4 separate regions of the Homo sapiens genome follow, and regions 2, 3 and 4 are each linked to region 1. Evidence: fine-mapped expression QTL. A gene starts in region 1. Each other region holds a variant in brackets. All regions are shown on one strand. Distances are between the middles of the regions.

The links. PIP is the estimated chance that this variant, and not a neighbour inherited with it, causes the effect.
Region 2: its variant is fine-mapped to the expression of CAMTA1 in lung (TOPMed, PIP above 0.99). The same link has a PIP of 0.9 or more in breast and subcutaneous fat.
Region 3: its variant is fine-mapped to the expression of CAMTA1 in whole blood (INTERVAL, PIP 0.96).
Region 4: its variant is fine-mapped to the expression of CAMTA1 in whole blood (INTERVAL, PIP above 0.99).

What each region holds. Positions count from the first base shown.
Region 1 is chr1:6,783,510-6,788,655 of GRCh38, forward strand. It overlaps CAMTA1 (calmodulin binding transcription activator 1), which reads left to right and starts at 1,945. Exons shown (of 23, transcript NM_015215.4): 1 at 1,945-2,066. The coding sequence starts at 2,022. CAMTA1-DT (CAMTA1 divergent transcript) reads right to left here and starts at 1,471. Exons shown (of 3, transcript NR_149049.1): 1 at 1,149-1,471; 2 at 640-714; 3 at 383-536. RefSeq lists enhancers at 311-987, 988-1,662 and silencers at 788-847, 928-987, 1,118-1,527, 1,868-2,027, 2,238-2,507 and 1 more.
Region 2 is chr1:7,676,694-7,681,839 of GRCh38, forward strand. CAMTA1 (calmodulin binding transcription activator 1) reads left to right here. Exons shown (of 23, transcript NM_015215.4): 11 at 906-1,040. Among named protein-coding and RNA genes, the nearest start is that of VAMP3, 92 kb to the right of the region's middle. The variant T/C (reference allele first, on the strand shown) is at 2,497.
Region 3 is chr1:6,736,696-6,741,841 of GRCh38, forward strand. No RefSeq gene overlaps it. Among named protein-coding and RNA genes, the nearest start is that of LINC01672, 15 kb to the left of the region's middle. The variant ACG/A (reference allele first, on the strand shown) is at 2,457.
Region 4 is chr1:7,741,762-7,746,907 of GRCh38, forward strand. CAMTA1 (calmodulin binding transcription activator 1) reads left to right here. Exons shown (of 23, transcript NM_015215.4): 17 at 3,074-3,261; 18 at 4,084-4,330. Among named protein-coding and RNA genes, the nearest start is that of VAMP3, 27 kb to the right of the region's middle. The variant A/G (reference allele first, on the strand shown) is at 2,694.

The sequences.
Region 1 (5,146 bases):
AGCACATGTAGGATGCTCCCAATTTTTTGTTGTAGTTAAGTACAGTGATCCTGTGAAGAATACCTTCACACATACAGCTTTTCTGGCATTTAGTGTTATTTCCTTAGAACAGATTCCCAGAAGTAAGATCACTGGGTCAAAAGATGCAGACATTTTTATGGCTTTTAATACATACTGTAAAATTGCTTTTCGAAAGGAATATACTAATTTACAATGCCACCAGCACTTCTTTTAAGAATCCGTTTCTCCACACAAATCGTCAACATAGGTGCTATTAAGAATGCTAATCGATAAAATATTGTCCCGCCGTTGTTAAAATTTTGCAATTTTTGAGGCTCATAAAATTAAAGTTTCTTGAAGAATGAGTGTGTAACACAAAACATTCTTTTGGGACATCTTTATTTCTGGAAAACCTAAGACATTCTTACTTGTGAAGACCAGAAAAAGAACACATGTTGTTAGGATTGGCACAGAATTCAGTGTGACAGTCAATCTTAATGCCAGAACACTTGAACGAGGATTTTTCACTTATTTTGCTAGTTGTCACCAACAGTAGCAAAAGGAAAAATAAAATGCGGAAGAATGAAATGTTCTTACTGCAAACCGTACAAGATCACATTGAGGGGCTGGAGCTCTTACATTCAACTTTTCTTTCCTTTTTCTTCTTTTTAAACAATTTGCGATTGCAGCCTCTCCTTTTGTTTCCGGTATTACCTGCCCAGGAGCAGAATTCCTTACTTTCTCCGGAGAGAGGCCGGTCCCTGGGAGCGCTGCCCAGCCACCCGCACGCCTAGCCGCCCCGAGAGCCGCACTCGGCGGACCCGGTTCCTAGGCTCGTTCCCGGGGCACCTGGCGGGCGCCCACCTCCCGGGGGGCACGTGCTCCCGTACGCAGCGCGAGGGCAGCGGGTGCCTGGCTATTTATTAGGAAAAGCCCCGCGCGGACTCTCCGGATTGAGGAGGGTGGGAAACTCGGCTGCCCAGCGCTCCACCCGGGCGGCCGGGGCTGGCGCTTCTCTGCTTTCGGCCGGCGGCCTCATCCTGGGACAGGCAACCATGAGTCATCCGCTCCGCGGGTCACATGGGCAACGTGACCAAAATAAAGTTTCGGTATTTTAAGCCGCCAGAAAAGGGGACAACGGAGCTCACCGGGGGCGGGCACAGGAGGCGGGCGCAGGCGGGCGGCGCCGGGGCCGTGGGGACGCGGCGCCGAGGGGGCGGGGCCTGGCGGGAGGCTCGCCCCTCCCCCACGGCCGGCAGCGACGCCCGGACTCCTAGGCAGTCGGACTCCAGGGCGCGGCACCCCTGCGGACCTCAGCCCCGAGGCCCCCCGCGTCCGGCTCCCCACCGGCAGCGGCGGCGGGCTGCGGGATCCCGGAGATCCCGGCGCGTCCCCCACAGCCACCGGGACCCCACGCGCCAGCAGCGGCTTCCCCGGGAACGTCCTTCAGCCCCGGGAGCACGCGGGAAAAGCCCCAGCGTGCCAATGAGGGAGCGCCTTCCTCATGACGGTCACGCTCGGGGGCGGGGCTTCCCTTCGCCGCTCCCGAGTTCCGGGAACCCCCTTTGATTGGTCTGGACGGCCTGGGAAACACTGTAGTGACGCCCAATCAAAACGCCACGTCTCGGCCTCGAGGAAATATTCCGTGTCGGGCCCGTCCTGATTGGACAGTTCTTTCGGGTTCTGGCCACTAGGAAGCTTTGTTTAGGTCCGGAAGGCGGGCTTTCCTGGGAGTGGGTGGGGAGGGGGCGTTGATTCTTGACCAATCCTTTCAGTCCGTTGGGTGGTGACCAGCCAATGGGCCGGATGGATAGGACGCTCCTCCCGGAGAGTAGTGAGACCCCTGGTGCGGGGCGATTGGCGGCGGGAGCGATGAGTGGCAGCCGCACGGCCCAACGGGAGCTGTGCGTGGGCCGCGGGGCGGGGCCAGGGCGGGTGCGCGGCGGCGGCGGGGTGGCTGGGCCGGCGGCGGCGGCGGTACGAGGCGCGCGCTCGGGGTCCCGGTCGCGAGGAGGAGGAGGATGTGGCGCGCGGAGGGGAAATGGCTGCCGAAAACAAGCCGGAAGGTAAGAGCCGGAGCGCGAGGGGCTGGGGGGCGGCGCGGCGGGCGGCGGGACCCGGCCCCGCCGGACATCCCGGGCATCGGCGGCGCCGGGCGGGAGCGCGGGGGCGCGGCGGGCGGGCGGGCGGGCGACCCGGCCGGGGAGGGGGCCGGCGGGGTGGGGGGGCGGAGCGCGGCCGAGTCCTGAGGTGACTCGCGGGGCCGGCGGAGCGCGGCGCCCCACACCCCACCCCCGGGGGCGGGCTGGGGCCGGAGGGGGCGGGGGGCTCGCGGGGCGGGGACCGGGCCCAGCGAGGAGGAGGAGCCGGCGGAGGGCCGGCGCCTCCCCCACCCGGACCGGGCATCCCCGCCGCTCCCGAGCCCGCTGCGCGGCCCCCGCACCCCCGGCGCTGGGTCCACGGTGGGGGCCGCGGGGCGGAAAGTTTATCCGCCTCGGGTCCTCCTGGCCCCGCGCCCCACTGCTCCGGGCCGGTCCCCGTCGGGCGGCAGCGGCCGGCGCTCAGCCCTCGCCGGCCCCCTGCTCTCCGGCGGGCAGGGCCAGATGTACTCTCTCCGGCACCCTCTTCAGCCCCGTGGACACCTCCCTGAGCGGGCGGGGGGTCCCCGAGCTTCTCCCCGCCAGGGGGACCCCGTCCTGCCGAGCGTCCCTCGGCCGAAGGGCCTCGTGTGACCCCTCCCCCTTCGCTTCCCGGGAAGGGAAGGGGGCCTGCGCAGCATCCCCGCCCCTCGCAGTCGTTCACATCCTACTCTTGCCCTTGCACCCTCACAGCCAGGAGGGTGGGGTCTCCGTTTCTATGGCAAGTGAGGATCTCCACACTCCCTTGCCCTTTACCTTCCGTGACCCCGATCCTTCCTTGGCACAGGGGTCCGTCTGATCTGCTCATCTTCTTTGGATTCTTTTGGGGCCTCTGCACACTCTCCGTTGACCCTTTTTGCCAGGACAAGGGGACTCAGGCTGCCCATGTTCTTCTTTCCTCACCCAGTGGATAGTGGGGGCTTGTGCAGCTCTGAAGTCATTTCTAAATAGGAAAGCAGACACTTCTTCCAGATCATGCATACTCTTACACTTTGCTGGGTTAGGGCGAGCTCATTTCCTAAATACCCTTTGAGTTGCCCTCCTTTTCTTATGGAGACAACTGGACGTTCACCGTGCTCCTTTCGCCATTTGTGTGTCTACACTGACTTGTTCTCTCTTCTCGGAGTTCCTTGTCTGGGTGAGAGTGGGCGCCCCAATAAGATGTAGGGCAGGGCTTCCATTGTGCCTAGTGCTTGAGTGAAAAGGGGCCACACTAGTTGCTCCTGTGTCTGAGGAAGACCGGGGTATATTTTTGCCTCCACTTGACTCTTGTGTCTCAGGAGGGGGCAACCTTCATCAGTTGACACTACCTCACTGGGAAAAGGGTCATGTGGCCTTGTTTTTTGATGTTTTGATTACTGTCTTCTGTGCAGTGAGAACCAGACTTTGTCCGTCCCACACTCAAGAGTCCTTGAACCTTTCCTGGATATAAACTTCCCGATTGTTTTTTGAGAGAACTCATATCCTCCTCTGTGGCTTCTGCTTCGCAGTCAGCCATATTTAGTGAGCCTGTTACTTTGACTTTTTCTAATTTTCTCAAATTGTATTCATGTTGGCTGGGTAAGGAGAAGCCATATGCCTTTCCATTCAGAAAAGGGAGTGTAGACACCCGTGTCGCCCACATGCCATCCTGGAAGAGGTTGCTTGTGTGCTCCTTGTTGTACTAGAACCTTCCTTTGGCTCTGGTGTTGTCTCTTGTGGGATCCAGACATTTCTTTAGATCTTGTAGCTTTCAGAAGGGGGAATTTGAATGCTTTCTGTTTTTTGCTGTTCCGGTTCTGCTTTGGAGAACCAGATCATGATGCTATATTCATTTGTTTACATATACATACATGTAGGTATACACAGATGAAATCACATTCATTACATATACAGTGCACAGGAAGTTGGAAGGGTCAGATGACTAGCTCTACATTTTGGGTGCATATGGGGACCTTTATGTGTAATGATACAGATAGATATTAACGTTGTTGGTAACTCTTCAGGCTTAGAAGCAGCAGCAGAAGAATCACGGATAAATGGCCAATTCTGACTATTCTTTGGTTTGTAATGTGTACTGTACTGAATAAGCAGAACGACATCCTGCGTGTTCACCAAGTCCCTGAATGTGCGAAGCGTACAGTGCCTGCCCATACGCATCGCAACTTTGGCGGTCTGAATTTAGGGGTGGTATTCGTTGCTTGATTCTGCATAGAGTGAAAAGTTCTTGATTTCTTTACTGCAGTGTAGGGGAAAGAGATTTCGTGTGTTTGGACAAACGACAGGAGATGGGTGAGAAGAATATGTTTTCCTGTGACAGAACTAGGAACGAATGACCGTAAATATGTCCCTTTTGTATTTTGGCCATTTAAATAATTGAGAGAGGTTGTGAAATTAGCAAAATGTACCTGTGGAAAGGCCCTCGACGCTTCATGAGAGGATGGGGAACGTTATTCTTCAAGTTCTTTTCTCTTGGACAGGGGAATGATTTGAGCCCTGTCGGCTCTAGTCAGGTGCTTTGCCTCCTCAGGTCTCCCTCCCTCCCTCCCTCCCTCCCTTTCTCCCTCTTTCACGAAATTCAGAATGGCTGCTAGCCGCTGTCACTCAGCAGGGAAGTCTTACTCTTTGACAGGCTTAGTGTGGAGACTCATCCTCCCCAACAAGTTCCGTTGGGCTCTGGGGCTTTGGCCTTTAAAACTGTTCTAGCTCAGAGGCTCGCTTTGCCTCAGTTTACTGTGTAAGGAGAAGTGGCTCATCGGAGATTGGGTCAGCGCTAGTTCTGTGACTTCTGGACTTTGCCTTTCAGTTAGCATTGAGTCGTCCAGTGGGCCTGATTCCCAATGTCAGAAAGTAGAGCTTTTGAGCTCATTTTCTTGTTTTTGGTTTTAAATGTTTTTATGCTGTTCGTATTCTGTGTCTGTAGTCAGCTTGATGGGATTGTGTATTTTTAGGGGGTGTTATTAGGGAACTTCGGAAAAACGAAGAGTCGAATACCTGCTGTAGATGGTGTAGACTCAGCGGAGTCATCC
Region 2 (5,146 bases), 890 kb after region 1:
GCACAGAACCCAGACATCTGCCAGGGATGAGGCCTGGCGGGGCAGTGTGCACACCCACCATTGCCCACGGGCCACCTCTGTGGGCCACAGGCCAGCCCCCAAGATGCCAACATGAGCCATGGAGAGGCAACCTCAACCCAAGAGCTGAAGCTGGTCTCCACCGCAGGCTGGCTTCGTCTTACTCACAGTGAGAACATACCTCGTTTATTCCACAAATAGAGTTATTTGTTGAGCCCTGTGTTGGGGCCACAGCAGTTAACGAGACCTGCCAGGGCCCTGTCTTCCAGAGCTTACTGTCGGGCCACTGGAGGGAGGTGCAACCTTCACATCAGCATCCCCAGCTCAACACCCACTGGGGCTGAGCTGGGGCCAGGGTAACAGAGGCACATCTGAAGCTCCTTCATCGGGGAAGCAGAAGAACTAAAAATACAAGGGATGGCTGGCTGTTCATCGAGTCAGGACAAGCTTGTAGGAATAGGTGAAACAAAATAAGCGCAAATAAATCCAAAGCAAATTTTGTACCCGAGCCCCACCCAGGAAGGATGGGACAAGAGGGGAAGTCAGCCAGCCATGAGGCAGGGATGGGGGCCATTCACTCATTCACTTGTTCAGCCAGTCTGTACTGAGCACCCAGCTCCTGCCCTCACTCGGAGGACAAAGCAAAGGGGCAGTTACGTACCTGGGAGTGATCACAGGACAGCTGGCTGAGTCTGGGCGAACCAAGAAGGTTCCTAGAAGCAGCATTGTGTTTGGGCCTCGAATGAGCAGGCATAGGCTACCATTAAGGAGAGCTGGACATTAACCAATGAAGGGTAGTGGGGAGGGGACATTCCAGGCCCTGTGTGGTTCACCAGGCTGTAGGTACCCACCCATCCCTTGACCTGGTCTTTTTCTCTCGCTTTCAGCCCATGACACTGGTCTTGTGACCCTACAAGTTGCCTTCAACAACCAGATCATCTCCAACTCGGTGGTGTTTGAGTACAAAGCCCGGGCTCTGCCCACGCTCCCTTCCTCCCAGCACGACTGGCTGTCGTTGGACGGTAAGAACAGTGCTTGGGTCGTCTTGCCAGGCACCAAGGGAGAGGGATGCTTGGGGACTCTTGCACAAGGTGTGAAAGAAGAGTAAGCACCCAGAAAGGGGCAGGAAGTGGTGCCAATGTGAGCAAAGGAAGGCCGACTGGGTCTCCACCGCCAGGCTGAGTGCCTATGCTGTCAGCCATTTGTGTCTGGACACTGGCTGGCCCCACCCTCAATCTCAGTCTCTCCCTGGGACAGACTGAAAAGTATGTGAGTGTGGGCCTGTGGCTGGCACGCCTGCTGGGCTGTCTGAGTGGCCAAGCAAGCCCAGGGCAGCTAAGAGGCTCTGGCGAAGGACCCCAGGCAGCAAGGTCCAAGCACCCGCTGTGCCCCTCCAGGCCTGTTTCCGCGGGCTCCTGGAAGCAAAAAGGGTTCCCAGAGGCCATCGCCAAGCCCCAAGCCTCTCGAGAAAGAGGACGGGGAGGCAGCTCAGGCCTGGGCTTCTTTCGAATTTGGGGGCTTGCTTCTGCCTTTTGGGGCTAACCAGCCAAATCTTCTCCTGGAAGCCCTCAAATACCCTCAACTCCAGCTTCTTGGCTGATTTTAATTCCACCTCTGGCCTGTACGGCGTCTGTGGCAAGCCCAGGATCACGACTGTGGCAGAGGGTAGAGTGTCAGGGACCCCAGTGGGCTTCAAGGGAGCAGGCAGGACCTGGTGGTCAAGGAGAGGCAGGGACTCCAAGAGCTGCCAGCCTTGGCCATGGGGGTCGGTGAGTGTTGGTGGTTCCCCTTGGGGTACCAGGGGCTCTGCAGAGAAGAGCTGCCAAAGGCAGGCTGGGGACGCCAGAGCCAGAGGCTGCCATTTCCCACCTGGGCACACGTCAGGAGGCCCAGAGCTAGCCAAGGCCTGGGGGGCTGAGCCCAGTACACTGGGGATGCGGTAGGAGGGATGCCTGTCCATAACCTCAGTATCAGGTGAGCCCACAGAGGTGACACTCCATGGGGTACCTTGCTGGAGACCTTGCTAGCCCAGGATGTTGAGGTCTGGGCTAAGCTGAGCCTGAGCCCCTTGCAGGGGTGGGTTCTCCAAGCAACACCCCCTCACGCACCCCGCACCCACAGCTGGCCTTCTGGGTCTCACCTCTCAGACTGCCCCTTGCTGTTGGCTGCTGGAGGATTTCTGGGCTTGGGTACATAGTTCATTTCCTGAACCACCCAGTGTGTAAACCTCAGCCTTATCCCAGTCCCTGCCCCAGCCGAGAGAGAGGGTGCCGACAGCTGCCCTGGCTGGTGAACCCTCAGGAGACAATTCCCTGGGGTGGCTTTGGGTCTTCAAACCCTAGCATGGGCTGCCCTGGGGCACCGAGCTGCCCTTGGCAGCATCTCTGGCTGAGGCCGGAGCCAGGCAGAGCTGTGATGACCACCCACAGGATGTAACAAAGAAGGGCAGGGTGACCAGGGGCTCCCGTTTAGGAAATC[T/C]GGTTTTAGTTTTGCAGAACAAATGGGGAATGGAGTCAGGAACTCTCCAGAGCTCTGGCTCTCCCTGAGTGACTTGGCCGGCCTCACTAGAATGAACCCAAGGATGCTGGGACCACTGTAGGACCCTGCCTGGCAGATGGAGCCTTTTCAGAGAGCAAAGTCACAGTCAGGCAGTGCCCCAGAGCTCAGGACACATCTGCAGGCCCCCTGGAAACCCAGAGAGCCAGCTGTACCCCAGAAGCTACGGCACGGGAGGATGCTGCCATAGAAACCGGGGGGAAGGGGAGCCACCCAACTGCTTCATGACAGACACACCCCGGGACCTCGGCCACCCCAGGCCCCTCGAGATGGGCCTGCCGCCAAGCTGGGCACCTGCTCCCTAGCTGCCCCCCCCCCCAGAACTTTGAGCTCTGAACTCTGTGGGCCTCCAAGTTGAAATAAGCACCCCTGCACCTGCAGGATACACAGGAGGGTGACAGGAATTGGGGCGGCGATGACATCAAGGCCTGGGCGTCCAGCAGCATCGCCTCTGTTACCACCAGCCAGGGCACAGCTAGGGGAACAGTAGCTCCGCAGCTTGGACCCCCAGCTCAGAGCGCCCTGCTGAACCAGAGGGGACCAGCCTGGGGTCCACCTCGGCCCAGGGGCCCTGCAGAGAGCAGATCAGGGCCCTGAAGGACGCTTTCCTTTGGTCTGGGCCAGTTGTCCTTTCAAGGAATGAGTGGGAGGCAGGGACAGAGGAACTGCCAGACCCCACCTGGCTGGGGAGAAGCGGGTCTTCCCTGGCTATTCTTTTTCCCCCTAAATGAATACAAGGCACTCACCCACCCAAGGGCCCAGCCTTCCCAGCCTTTCACCAGCTTGATAAATACTAAGGGAGGGGAGGGGAAGCAGCGCCGCAGTCGCAGCGCAAAGGGGGCCGCGGGAACAGCTAGTCGGGAGCGCGGGGGTCCCGGGCCTCTGGCCAGCCACGGGGCCTGGCCATGAACTTTGCGTCCGGGCCAATGCTGCAGTGGCCGGGCGGTGGTGAGCCTTCCGTTCCCCGCCTGTCCCTCCCGGCCCCTCCCCTCGGTCTCCGCAGCTTCTCGGCTCAGCCCCTCCCGTCCCCGCGGGCGCTGGGCCGATTCTCCCTCCGCGCTGGCCAGGCCGTGGAGACGGGTTCGCCGCGGAGAGGGGAGGAGGGCTGGGGAAGGGGTGGGCGCCAGGGGACTGCAGCGCGGAGCAAACTGGGGCACGGCTGCCGGCGGCGCGCGTGCACACACTCTCTCCCACGCGCGCGCCCTCCCGCCGACGCGCAGCCGCAATGCGGGGCCCTTCGCGGAACTGCTGGCGGCGCCGCGCCCCGCGGGGTCTGGGGCCCCAGCAGGGACTGCGAGGACCGCGGGACTAGGAAGGCCTGAGCCCGGCCACCCGCCTCCGAGTGCGCCGCACCGTGCGGCGGGGACCACAGGCCTTCGGTGGGCGGCGAGCCCTGGCTCCCTCGTTCGGTGGCCTCTGCTGCATGTGGGATGCGCCCTTTGTCCCCTCTGCCATGCGCGGGGGAAAATGTTTGAGGGCGGGGAAGAGACTGTCTGCCCTCATTTGATCTAAAACATGAATTTGTTTGCTTGGCTAAAGGCCGGGGGGGGGCGTGGGTCCGGGGCGCAGAGAACACGCGCGCGCGCGCGCGCGCCAGCAGCAGCAGCAGCAGCAGCTGCTGCGGCGAAGTCTTTGTCCCCGCGGCGCAGCCTTTGTCCCCGCGGCGTAGCTTTTGTTTGCGCAGCCCCGCCCTGCGGAGGGCGATCGTCCCCACGTTGGGGCCGGGGGGCAGGGACCCGACGTCCCCAAAATCTCAGCTGGGGCGCAGCCATCCTGGGAGAGACCGGGCGTGGAGATGGGGGAAGGTGGGAGGAGGAATCGCAGCCTTCTGGATCCCGGAGCTGCAGCGCCTCCCCCAGACCTAGGGGTCTTCCCCTCCCTTCCCCTGCGCCCCACTGTGAGCTCCAGGGTCAAAGGCCCTGTCTGCTGGACCCCCATCACTTAGCCCAGGGTTGGCACGTGGTGGGCTGCAGTACATATTTGTGATATGAATGCAGGCACACGTGAATGAGTGCAGGAGGGACTGTCAAAAAGCTGAATCCAACTAGTGGTAAGGAAGGTTTCACAGAGGAAACGACCCCCTTGGTGAGACCTGAAGCCTGAGCAGGGTTAGCCCGGGAAGAGGGGGCATCAAGGGTGGCAGGAGAGGGAATGAGCGGCTGCCTTTAACCCAGGGTCTTCGGGAACTGCCGTTTTCACCATTTCTCCTCCACCCACAAAGGTGCGGATTCAGAACAAATTTCCTCTGTCCTGACCTGACCCCAGGCCATTTGCACAGGACCCCAGGGAGGTCTGAGCAGGCCAGCTCTTCATACAAAGATGCAAGGGGGACCTCTTCCAGGCTAGAGGTAGGCAGGCAATGGGGTTTACCCTGGAGACCCACTGGGGAGGATCTCTGGGAAATGTCACTTATACCTGTGATAGGTCCTATGGATACAACAGCCAGGGCCGTGCTGAACTTCAAGAGGATGCTGTCTGTGTAGATTTGGCCTCGCCTGTGCCTGTGTTTACAAAGAGAATAAACCCAGGCAGTTCAACACTGCAGCCCTGGAGCTGAGGGGATGGGGCGGGC
Region 3 (5,146 bases), 47 kb before region 1:
TGGCCTCCAGCTGCATCCCCATTGCTGCAAAATATATGATTTTGGAAGATGGAACACTTGAGGCCAGGAGTTCGAGACCAGCCTGGTCAACATGATGAAACCCCATCTCTACCAACAATACAAAAAATTAGCTAGGTGTGGTCGTGCGCACCTATAATCCCAGCTACTCGGGAGGCTGAGGCAGGAGAATCACTTGAACCCAGGAGGTGGAGGCTGCAGTGAGCCGAGATCATGCCACTGTACTCCAGCCAGGTGACAGAGTGAGACAAAAAACAAAACAAAACATGATTTTGTTCTTTTTCATGGCTGCAAATATCAACTTTTAACATTAACTGCCCCATTCTCTCAAGCTTACGGTTTCTTCCTTCAAATGCCCCAGGCAAGAATCTGATTGGTCCAGCTCATTTTTTTTCTTTTTCTTTTTTTTTTTTTTTTGAGACGGAGTCTCACTCTATTGCCCAGGCTGGAGGGCAGTGGCACCATCTCGGCTCACTGCAACTTTCTCCACCTCCCGGGTTCAAGTGATTCTCTTGCCTCACCCTCCTGAGTAGCTGGGACCACAGGTGTGTGCCACCACGTCTGGCTAATTTTTGTATTTTTAGTAGGGACGGGTTTCACCATGTTGGCCAGGCTGGTCTTGAACACCTGACCTGAAATGATCTGCCCTCCTCAGCCTCCCAAAGTGCTGGGATTACAGGCATGAGCCACTGGGCCTGGCTACCTCATCTTTCTAAACCAGGATGATGCGCAGTCCCTGGATTGGCTGTTCTAGGTCAGGAGACCCACAGTCCTATCAAATGTGGCTAAGGGTCAATGTCATATGCTACAAAACATGGCTGCCCATAGACAGTTTTCACCAAAGGATAAGGCGGGTCATGGGGACTGTCATTTAGAGTGGTGGGCAACACTCTCTCCATTGTGCAGCAGTGATGTGGTGCAGTGGTTTGACACCAGGTGGGCGGGGAGGGGGGCTGCTGAAGCCAATCAAGCTAATTCCACTCCTTCCCCTTGCCTATTCTTAGTCAAAGAATCCGAGGTTGGGCCAGCAAGTGGCATTCCTCTGTGACAGGGAGAGGTTCAGGGATGGGTCTGCAGATCAGTTTGATGTTTTCTCAAGGACATTGTTGGGAAGGAAATGTCCTTGTTTTTAAGGAACGGCCATAGGGAGAAGTGGTCTCTCTTCCTTTGGACATTGCTGTGCACAAATAAATGGGAGAGCCCCAAGCTGCGGCAGCCATTCTTACTTCTGCTCCAAGGATGACATCACCAGCTCAAGAGGGCAGGACTCAGAGCATGGCAGGGAAACTGAGGCAGAGCCAGTGGAATAGCTAGGTCCCAAAGCCCACCCTTTCTCTTGGCCTCCAGTCATTTGATCCAATAAATGTCCTTATTGTTTAAGCCAGTTTTGGGCTTTTGTAATTTGCAGCTAAAAGCATGGCTGGGAGTAGGGGGTGGGCTGGGTAGGGGGTGCCTGTGGGCCTGGTGGGGAATGCATAGGGTGTGATTTCTGAATATTATGCAGGGGGCGGGCCAGTTCCACAAGCAGACAGCCGAGAAGTCACAGAGGACCCTGTACTTGGCTTAATGATTTGCTGTCTTAAAATTCCTATTAAAATTTTTTTTAAATTTTATTTTAGAGATGGGCTCCAGCTCTGTTGCCCTGGCTGGAGAGCAGTGGTGCGATCATAGCTCACTACAGCCTCAAACTCCTGGGCTCAAGCAATCCTCTTGCCTCTGCCTCCCAAGTAGCTGGGACTACAGGCATGCACAATCATAGATGGCTAATTTATTTATTTTGCAGAGATCGGGTCTCAGTATGTTGCACTGGCTTCTCTTGAACTCCTAGGCTCCAGTGATCCTCTGACCTTGGCCTCCCAAAGTGCTGGGATTACAGGTGTGAGCCACTATATCCAGTTATACATTTTTAACAAGGGGCCTGCATTTTCATTTTGCACCAGGTCCTACGAGTCATGTAGACAGTCCCAGGCAGGTGACAGAACATTTAGAAAAGGAGTGTGTAGACTGTAAAGCACTATACAAAAGCATCCTGTCCTTCTCCCCAGGGACAAAAGACACTATGTGAGCCTCCTATGCCTAGTTTCATGGGTCTTCCTGCCAGCAAACCTCCCATCCATACGCTCCAACTGTCTGCTGCCCGACCCCTGATAGCCTGCACAGACAGCGGGTCAACTCCGACCTACTGTGTTCCCATAGGAACGTGGAGAGATAGGTAGAGAATTCATTATCCATTGAAGTTTGTTTTCCGTTTTTGGAAGTTTTGGGAAGTATAAGACCAAAGTTAAACTATTTAATTAACAGCTAAACAAATGAGTAAAGCGCACACACACACACACGCACACACACACGCGCGCACACACACACGCGCACAAACACGCGCACGCACACACACGCACACACACACACGCACGCACACACACACACACGCACACACTCAC[ACG/A]CACACACGCACGCACACGCACGCACACACACACAAACTACTATGTTTGCTGGGCCTGAATTAAAATCTACTGGTCTGGGCTGGCCATGGTGACTCATGCCTGTAATCCTAGCACTGTGGGAGGCCGAGGTGGGCTGATCACCTGAGGTTAAGAGTTCAAGACCAGCCTGGCCAACTTGATGAAACACCAACTCTATTAAAATACAAAAATTAGCTGGGCGTGGTGACTCGTGCCTGTAGTTCCAGCTACTCGGGAGGCTGAGGCATGAGAATCGCTTGAACCCGAGATGCAGAGGTTGAGGTGAGCCGAGATTGCGCCACTACACTCCAGCCTGGGACTCTGTCTCAAAAATCTATTTCTCTGTTCAGAATCTTCCTCTGCCTTTTAGGGACCTACTTTAGACTCACGGGCCCGACTATCCTACCTTTATCTTTGTGTGTGTGTGTGTGTGTTTCCCACTGAACGTGGGCTCATATGTCACAGGTGAAAAGAATGGCTGTCTGATTCAGCCTGTCCCTTCATCCTGCTCATGTAGTTCCAGCGAGTGAGTGTTACTTCGGAGATAATGAATGCATCCCATTTAGTGCAAAAATATACCTTGTCACCGGTCACATGGCAAATGTAGCCATAAAAAGTTAAAAATGCTATTATTTAAAATTTATTTTCTCATAAAAAATGGTTCCTGAAATGATCATAATTTGAAGAACTTACTTCATAGTTATGATACATTATGCCCGGGCCCAGGCCTAAGGCTGGTAATCCCAGAGCCAAGGGGGAGACCTCGGTCTTGGTTAGGACTAGGCAGCCTCGGTCCCTACCACCCCTTCCTTTACGGAGCCTCCACTCTATGTCTGTTTCATTTACATCAACCCAAAATTGTGACTGCAGATGAGCCCATTTTACACTATTGCCTCCCCATTCCCAAAATGGCTTTTTTGTTTTTTTTTGAGACAGGGTCTCACTGTCGCTCAAGCTGAAGTGCAGTGCTGCGATCTCAGCTCACTGCAACCTCTGTCTCCCAGGCTTAAGCGATCCTCACACCTCAGCCTCCCGAGTAGCTGGGACTACAGATAGGCATGCATCATTATGCGTGGCTCTTTTTTTTTTTTTTTTTGAGAGGGGGTTTCGTTAAGTTGGCCAGGCTGACCTCAAACTCCTGGGCTCAAGCAATCCTCTTGTCTTTGTGTCCTGAGTAGCTGAGACTGCAGGTGCACACCACCATGCCTGGCTAATGTTATTTTATCTAATTTTTTTGTAGAGACAAGGTCTTGCCACATCATTGCCCAGGCTGGTCTTGAACTCTGAGGCTCAAGTGATTTTCTTGCCTCGGCCTTCTAAAGTGCTGGGATTGCAGGTGTGAGCCACGATGTCTGGCCTCAAATGGCATTGTGTGTGTGTGTGTGTGTGTGTGTGTGTGTGTGTGTGTGTGTGAAGTTTGCAGGTTTAGAGACTTTTCTCCCAGTGGACTTTAATTCTCTTAGGTAAAGGAAAGGGCATGATGCTGGCTGGAATCCTCAGGATGAATGTCCCCTTTGTGCTTCATCAGGGGTTCCTGATCTTACTTTGGGGACCCCTCCTTCCCCCACTCCAATGATTGTCCGACCTGAGAGTCATCGAAGTGTGTGGATTCAGGAGGTTTGTGGTCACCATTTAGTGATCAGCCATGGTATGAGAAATCTCCACTGCTTCTGGTGCAGGCGACGGTGGGGGGCACCCCTGATAGAGCAGCACCTATGTTCCTGACAGTAATAAACATGTTTGTCCCTGCTATGCATGACATGGCACAAGCCTGCTAACAACTGCAGCTTAAGGAGAGCAGGGTTCTGTGCTGGGAACCCTACAGATGCATAATTTCTTTTCTCTTTTTGACCCTGTGCTCCAAGATGCATAATTTCATTATTATTATTTTTATTATTTTGAGACAGAGCCGAGGCTGGATGCAGTGGTACCATCTCAACTCATTGCAACCTCTGCCTCCTGGGTTCAAGTGATTCTCCTGCCTCAGCCTTCTGAGTAGCTGGGATTATAGGTGCCCGCCAACAAGTCTGGCTGATTTTTGTATTTTTAGTAGAGATGGGGTTTCCCTATGTTGGCCCAGGCTGGTCTTGAACTCCTGGCCTCAAGTGATCCACCCGCCTCGACCTCCCAAAGTGCTGGGATTACAGGTGTGAGCCACTGCCCGCTGCCAATTTCATTAATCTTTGTAACTATCCTGTGGGAAAATATATGCGTTTCCTACTCCTGTTGTAACCAATGATCACAAACATAGTGCCCTAAAACAACACATCCATTTATTATCTTACAGTTATGGAGGAAATGGGTCTTACTGGACCAAAATGAAGGCATTGGCCGAGCTGTGTTCCTGCTCTAGGCTCTGCAGGAGAATCCCTTTCCTTGCCTTTTCCAGCTCCCTCAGGCTGCCCACATCCCTTGGTTTGTGGTCCCCTCCTCCTCCTCTTCAAAGCCAGCAGTGCTGCCTCTTCACATCTCGCTCTGACCTTGGCGGTTGTGATCCCATCTCCTTCTCAGACTCTGACTCTCATGCCTCCCTCTTCTAAGGACTCTTGTGATCCCACTGGGTCCACTTGGATGATGCAGGAGAGTCCCCATAACTCACTCAACATCTTTCCATTTCATCACATCTGTAAAGACCCTTTGTGGACCGGGCGAGGTGGCTCTCGCCTATA
Region 4 (5,146 bases), 960 kb after region 1:
GCAGGTCCCTGTAATCCCAGCTACTCGGGAGGCTGAGGCACAAGAATTGCTTGAACCCTGGAGGTGGAGGTTTTGCTGTGTTAGCCAGGATGGTCTCGATCTCCTGACCTTGTGATCTGCCTGCCTCCACCTCCCAAAGTGCTGGGATTACAGGTGTGAGCCACCATGCCCGGCCTCGGGTTGTTTTTTTTTTTTTTTTTAAATAAAAGCAGGATATACTATATGCTACTTGTAAGAAATACAATCAAAATGAAATGAAAGAGAAACAATGAAAATGAAATGATAGATAACAGCTATAATAGATAAACGAGTATAAAAAGAAAGATAAAAAGTACAATTCAAGGCAAATTAATGTGTGTGTGTATATATACATATATATATACATACAGTTTATCTAGAAGATATGACAGTTATAAACTATTGTGTACCTAGCACCATAACCTTGAAACATTACAGCAAATACTAGTAAATACAAAGAAATGTGGACCCATAATCACAGTGTGCTACTAACACACATAGCTCAGAATTTTTCAGATCAAGTAGATATGAAAAGCATATGAACAAGTTGAACAACAAAATCAGAAGGCTTGATTTCATATATATTTACTATATGATAGATTTAATATATGATATACTTATATATAACTATATGTGTGTATGTAGTTAATACACATAGCAACTACGTATATAATTGTTCTTTTCAGGTGTCCAAGGCATGTTTATGAAAACTGCTCATATACTAGGACACGAAGAAAATTTGAATAAAAATCCAAAGCTACCCATTTAAAGGCCGTCTTCTCTGAGCACAATCCATGAAATTTAGAAATGAGTGACGTGACTTTTCAGGTCCAACTACTGAGAACGTTACTTAAGATGTTTTTACATTGTTACATGTTTATAAAATGGAGGATTTAGGAAAGTGATTGTAGAGTGATAACCTTTTAGGCTTCAGAAATTCCACCTTACTTTTAATATATTTGAATACTTTCATGGAAAAAGAATAAAGCAAGATTTACTTCCTACCGTTTGAGTCACAAATCAAGACGGCCAATAGAGAAGGTGAAAGAAAGCTGCAATTTTTTTTTGAGACAGAGTCTTGCTATGTCACCCAGGCTGGAGTGCGGTGGTGCCATCTTGGCTCACTGCAACTTCCATCTCCTGGGTTCAAGCAATTCTCCTGCCTTGGCCTCTCTAGTATCTGGGATTACAGATACTGTAAGAAAGCACTAGGCCTGCACCACCATATCTGGCTAATTTTGGGGGTTTTTTTGGGTAGAGACAGGGTTTCGCCATATTGCCCAGGCTGGGCTTGAACTCCTGAGCTCAGGCGATCCACCCGCCTCGGCCTCACAAAAGTGCTGAGATTACAGGCCTGAGCCACCACGCCTGGCCCAATATATTTTTCTTAAATTTTTTATTTTTATTGTTATTACAAAAACGAATTGTTCTTTGATGAAAATTTATAAAATTATCCACAATAAGCATTTTTAACAGCTTTATTGAGGTATAATTTACGTATGATAAAAAATTTATAAAATTATCCACAATAAGCATTTTTAACAGCTTTATTGAGGTATAATTTACGTATGATAAAATTTACCCATTTTAAATGCTCAGGGGATGGCTTCTAGTAAACATATACAGCTGAGCAACCATCACCATAGTCCCTTTCTAGAACACTTCCATCTCACTGCACGGTGCCCTGTGCCCATCTGCAGTCCGTCTCTGCCCAGCCTTAGGCAACCACTGATCTGATTCTATCCCCAGAGGTTTGCTTTTTCTAGACATTTCATGTAAGTGGAATCATGCACCATGCAGCCCACTGCGGCTGTTTCCACTTAGCAGGATGTTGTTGAGGCTCCTTCGTGTTGGCAGGAGAAGCATTTTGTCACTTTGTATAGTTCCATCGAGAACATTTTCAGTTCACTTAAGAACCCGAAGTGCTGTGTTTCAGTTACCACTCCTAAGAGGTATGCAAGGACATTTTTAAGAATCAGTCCACATCTCTGATTCTCATAAAGAATATCTTAATCCAGACCAGCTTTGAGGATTCTTTTTTTCTTTTCTTTTCTTTTTTTTTTCTGAGACGGAGTCTTACTCTGTCGCCCAGGCTGGAGTGCAGTGGCGCGATCTTGGCTTACTGCAAGCTCCACCTCCCAGGTTCATGCCATTCTCCTGCCTCAGCCTCCCGAGTAGCTGGCACTACAGGCGCCCGCCACCACGCCCAGCTAATTTTTTGTATTTTTTAATAGAGACGGGGTTTCACCGTGTTAGCCAGGATGGTCTTAATCTCCTGACCTCGTGATCCGCCAGCCTTGGCCTCCCAAAGTGCTGGGATTACAGGCGTGAGCCACTGCGCCTGGCCTCTTTTTTTTTTTTTTTTTTTTTGAGTTGGAGTCTCGCGCTGTCGCCCAGGCTGGAGTGCAGTGGCGCGATCTTGGTTCACTGCAACCTCCACCTCCCAGGTTTAAGTGATTCTCCTGCCTCAGCCTCCCACGTAGCTGGGATTATAGGCAAGCACCACCATACCTGGCTAATTTTTGTATTTTTAGTAGGGACAGGGTTTCATCATGTTGGCCAGGATGGTCTGGAACTCCTGACCTCAAGTGATCCACCCACCTCGGCCTCCCAAAGTGCTGGGATTACAGGCATGAGCCACTGTTCCCAGCCTAGACCGGGGTTCTCTAGGCCAG[A/G]CAAAAGGGGGTGGTTAGATATTGGTTATGTAACTAATAGTGACACCTCATTAATATTACAGGTTACTCTAGAACTGCCCAGTGTCATTAATTGGTTGACCCTGAGAGTAGGGAGTACATACAAGCCAGAAGTTCTCCAAGACTGGACTAAAGGTTTGGGGCCAGACTATGACTTGGAGATAATCAGGTCTCAGGATCTCAGCACATTTTGGTGTGTTATGTTATAACCTTAAAATGGTATTTCATTGCATTGGATTGAGGTGGAAGTCTGCCCTCCTGCCTGATTATTTTTTTCTCTCCAAGGCGAGGCAGGGAGGTAGACCTGGATAACTTGTAAGGTTCCTTTCTAACCTGAGTGTTCTGTGAACTTCTGACTTCAGGTGAACATGATGACCTTGGCAGAACACATTATTGAAGCCACACCTGACCGAATCAAGCAGGAGAATTTTGTGCCCATGGAGTCCTCAGGATTGGAAAGAACAGACCCTGCCACCATTAGCAGTACAATGAGCTGGCTGGCCAGTTATCTAGCGGATGCTGACTGCCTTCCCAGTGCTGCCCAGATCCGGTGAGTAAAGTTACGGAGGTCACTACCCAGCATAGATTCCCGGATGTAATTGGAGGCAGGGGAGGCTGATTGTATTTGATGAATGCCGTGTCATAGAAGACCATACCAAGGAAGGAAGGAAGCATGAGGACAAGCTCTGTTGCCACTTTCAAGGCCCAGCTCCTATTCCTACCTCTCCCATTATTTTTTTTACTGCTATCAGAGCATAAGAGATCGTGTTAAGCTGGGCGCGGTGGCTCATGCCTGTAATCCCAGCACTTTTGGGAGGCCAAGGCGGGTGGATCACCTGAGGTCAGGAGTTTGAGACCAGCCTGGCCAACATGGTAAAACCCCGTCTCTACTAAAAATACAAAATTAGCCGGGCATGGTGATAGGCGCCTGTAATCCCAGCTACTTGGGAGGCTGAGGCAGGAGAATTGCTTGAACCCAAGAGGCGGAGGTTACAATCAGCTGAGATTGCACCACTGCACCCCAGTCTGCGCAACAGAGCAAGATTCTGTCTCAAAAAAAAGAAAAAAAAGAGAGATAATGTAGCATAATGTTTCCCCCTAATTCAGCTGAAGTTTTCTAATGGCAGTAGAGTGTACTGCTACTAGGTTTTAGTATTTAGCATAGTACTAAAGTTATGATAGGTGTTGAGTATAAACTTACTCAATCGAAGGACACTGGGTATGTTTAGCAACTTGCCTAACTGAATGAAGGCATGTTCCTAATTGCCCACAGTGGCTTCTGGCAGATACCATCTTGGCTCATTCATTAATATCTAATGGGTGGTGCAAATCAATCATTAATCTGTCTCTCCTTTTTCTCCTCTTGTTTCAGAAGTGCATATAACGAGCCTCTAACCCCTTCTTCTAATACCAGCTTGAGCCCTGTTGGCTCTCCCGTCAGTGAAATCGCTTTCGAGAAACCTAACCTTCCCTCCGCCGCGGATTGGTCAGAATTCCTGAGTGCATCTACCAGTGAGAAGGTAGAGAATGAGTTTGCTCAGCTCACTCTGTCTGATCATGAACAGAGAGAACTCTATGAGGCTGCCAGGCTTGTCCAGACAGCTTTCCGGAAATACAAGGTAAACTAGAACAGAACCTTCGTTTTGTGACATTCTTAAGATCAGAGAGGACAGATGAAAGTCAGAATCATGCGAACAAAAACATTTACTATTTCTTTTTTTCCTCTGAATTTGTAGAATTTTTTTGGAAGTCTCCAATTTATTAAGATTCACTATATAACATATCTGTGTGTGTATCTGCTTTGTAAAAATATTTTATGGTAAAATATTCATAACATAAAGTTTGCCATTTTGTCTGTTTTAAAGTGTGCAGTGTGGGGGCATTAAGTATATTCACAGTGCTGTGCAACTGTCACTGCTACCCATTTCCAGAGCTTTCTCATTCTCCCAAACCATTTGCTTTTAACAACCAATTTTTAAACAGTTAAACATGAAATTTTTATCAAATGTTTACAAAGTTCCTAAAGCACCTTCATAGAAGAGTTTCAGAAGCGTAGTCTTCTCAGTTATCTGAGGCATAGAGAATAACTGGCTGGGACAAGGGCCCATCCATGGTTAGGCCAGGGCGGGAATGGGGCTTTTCCGGCACAGAACAATGCTGATTTTTCTTTTTCTTTTTTTGAAATGGAGTCTCATTCTGTTGCCAAGGCTGGAGAAGTGCAGTGGTGCAATCTCTGCTCACTGCAACCTCCACCTCCCAATTCAGGTGATTCTCCTGCCTCAGCCTCCCAAGTAGCTGGAATTACTGGCGCGTGCCACCACACCCGCCTAATTCTTGTATTTTTAGTAGAGACAGGTTTTCACAATGTTGGCCAGGCTGGTCTCGAACTCTTAACCTCAAGTGATCCGCCTGCCTTGGCCTCCCAAAGTGCTGGG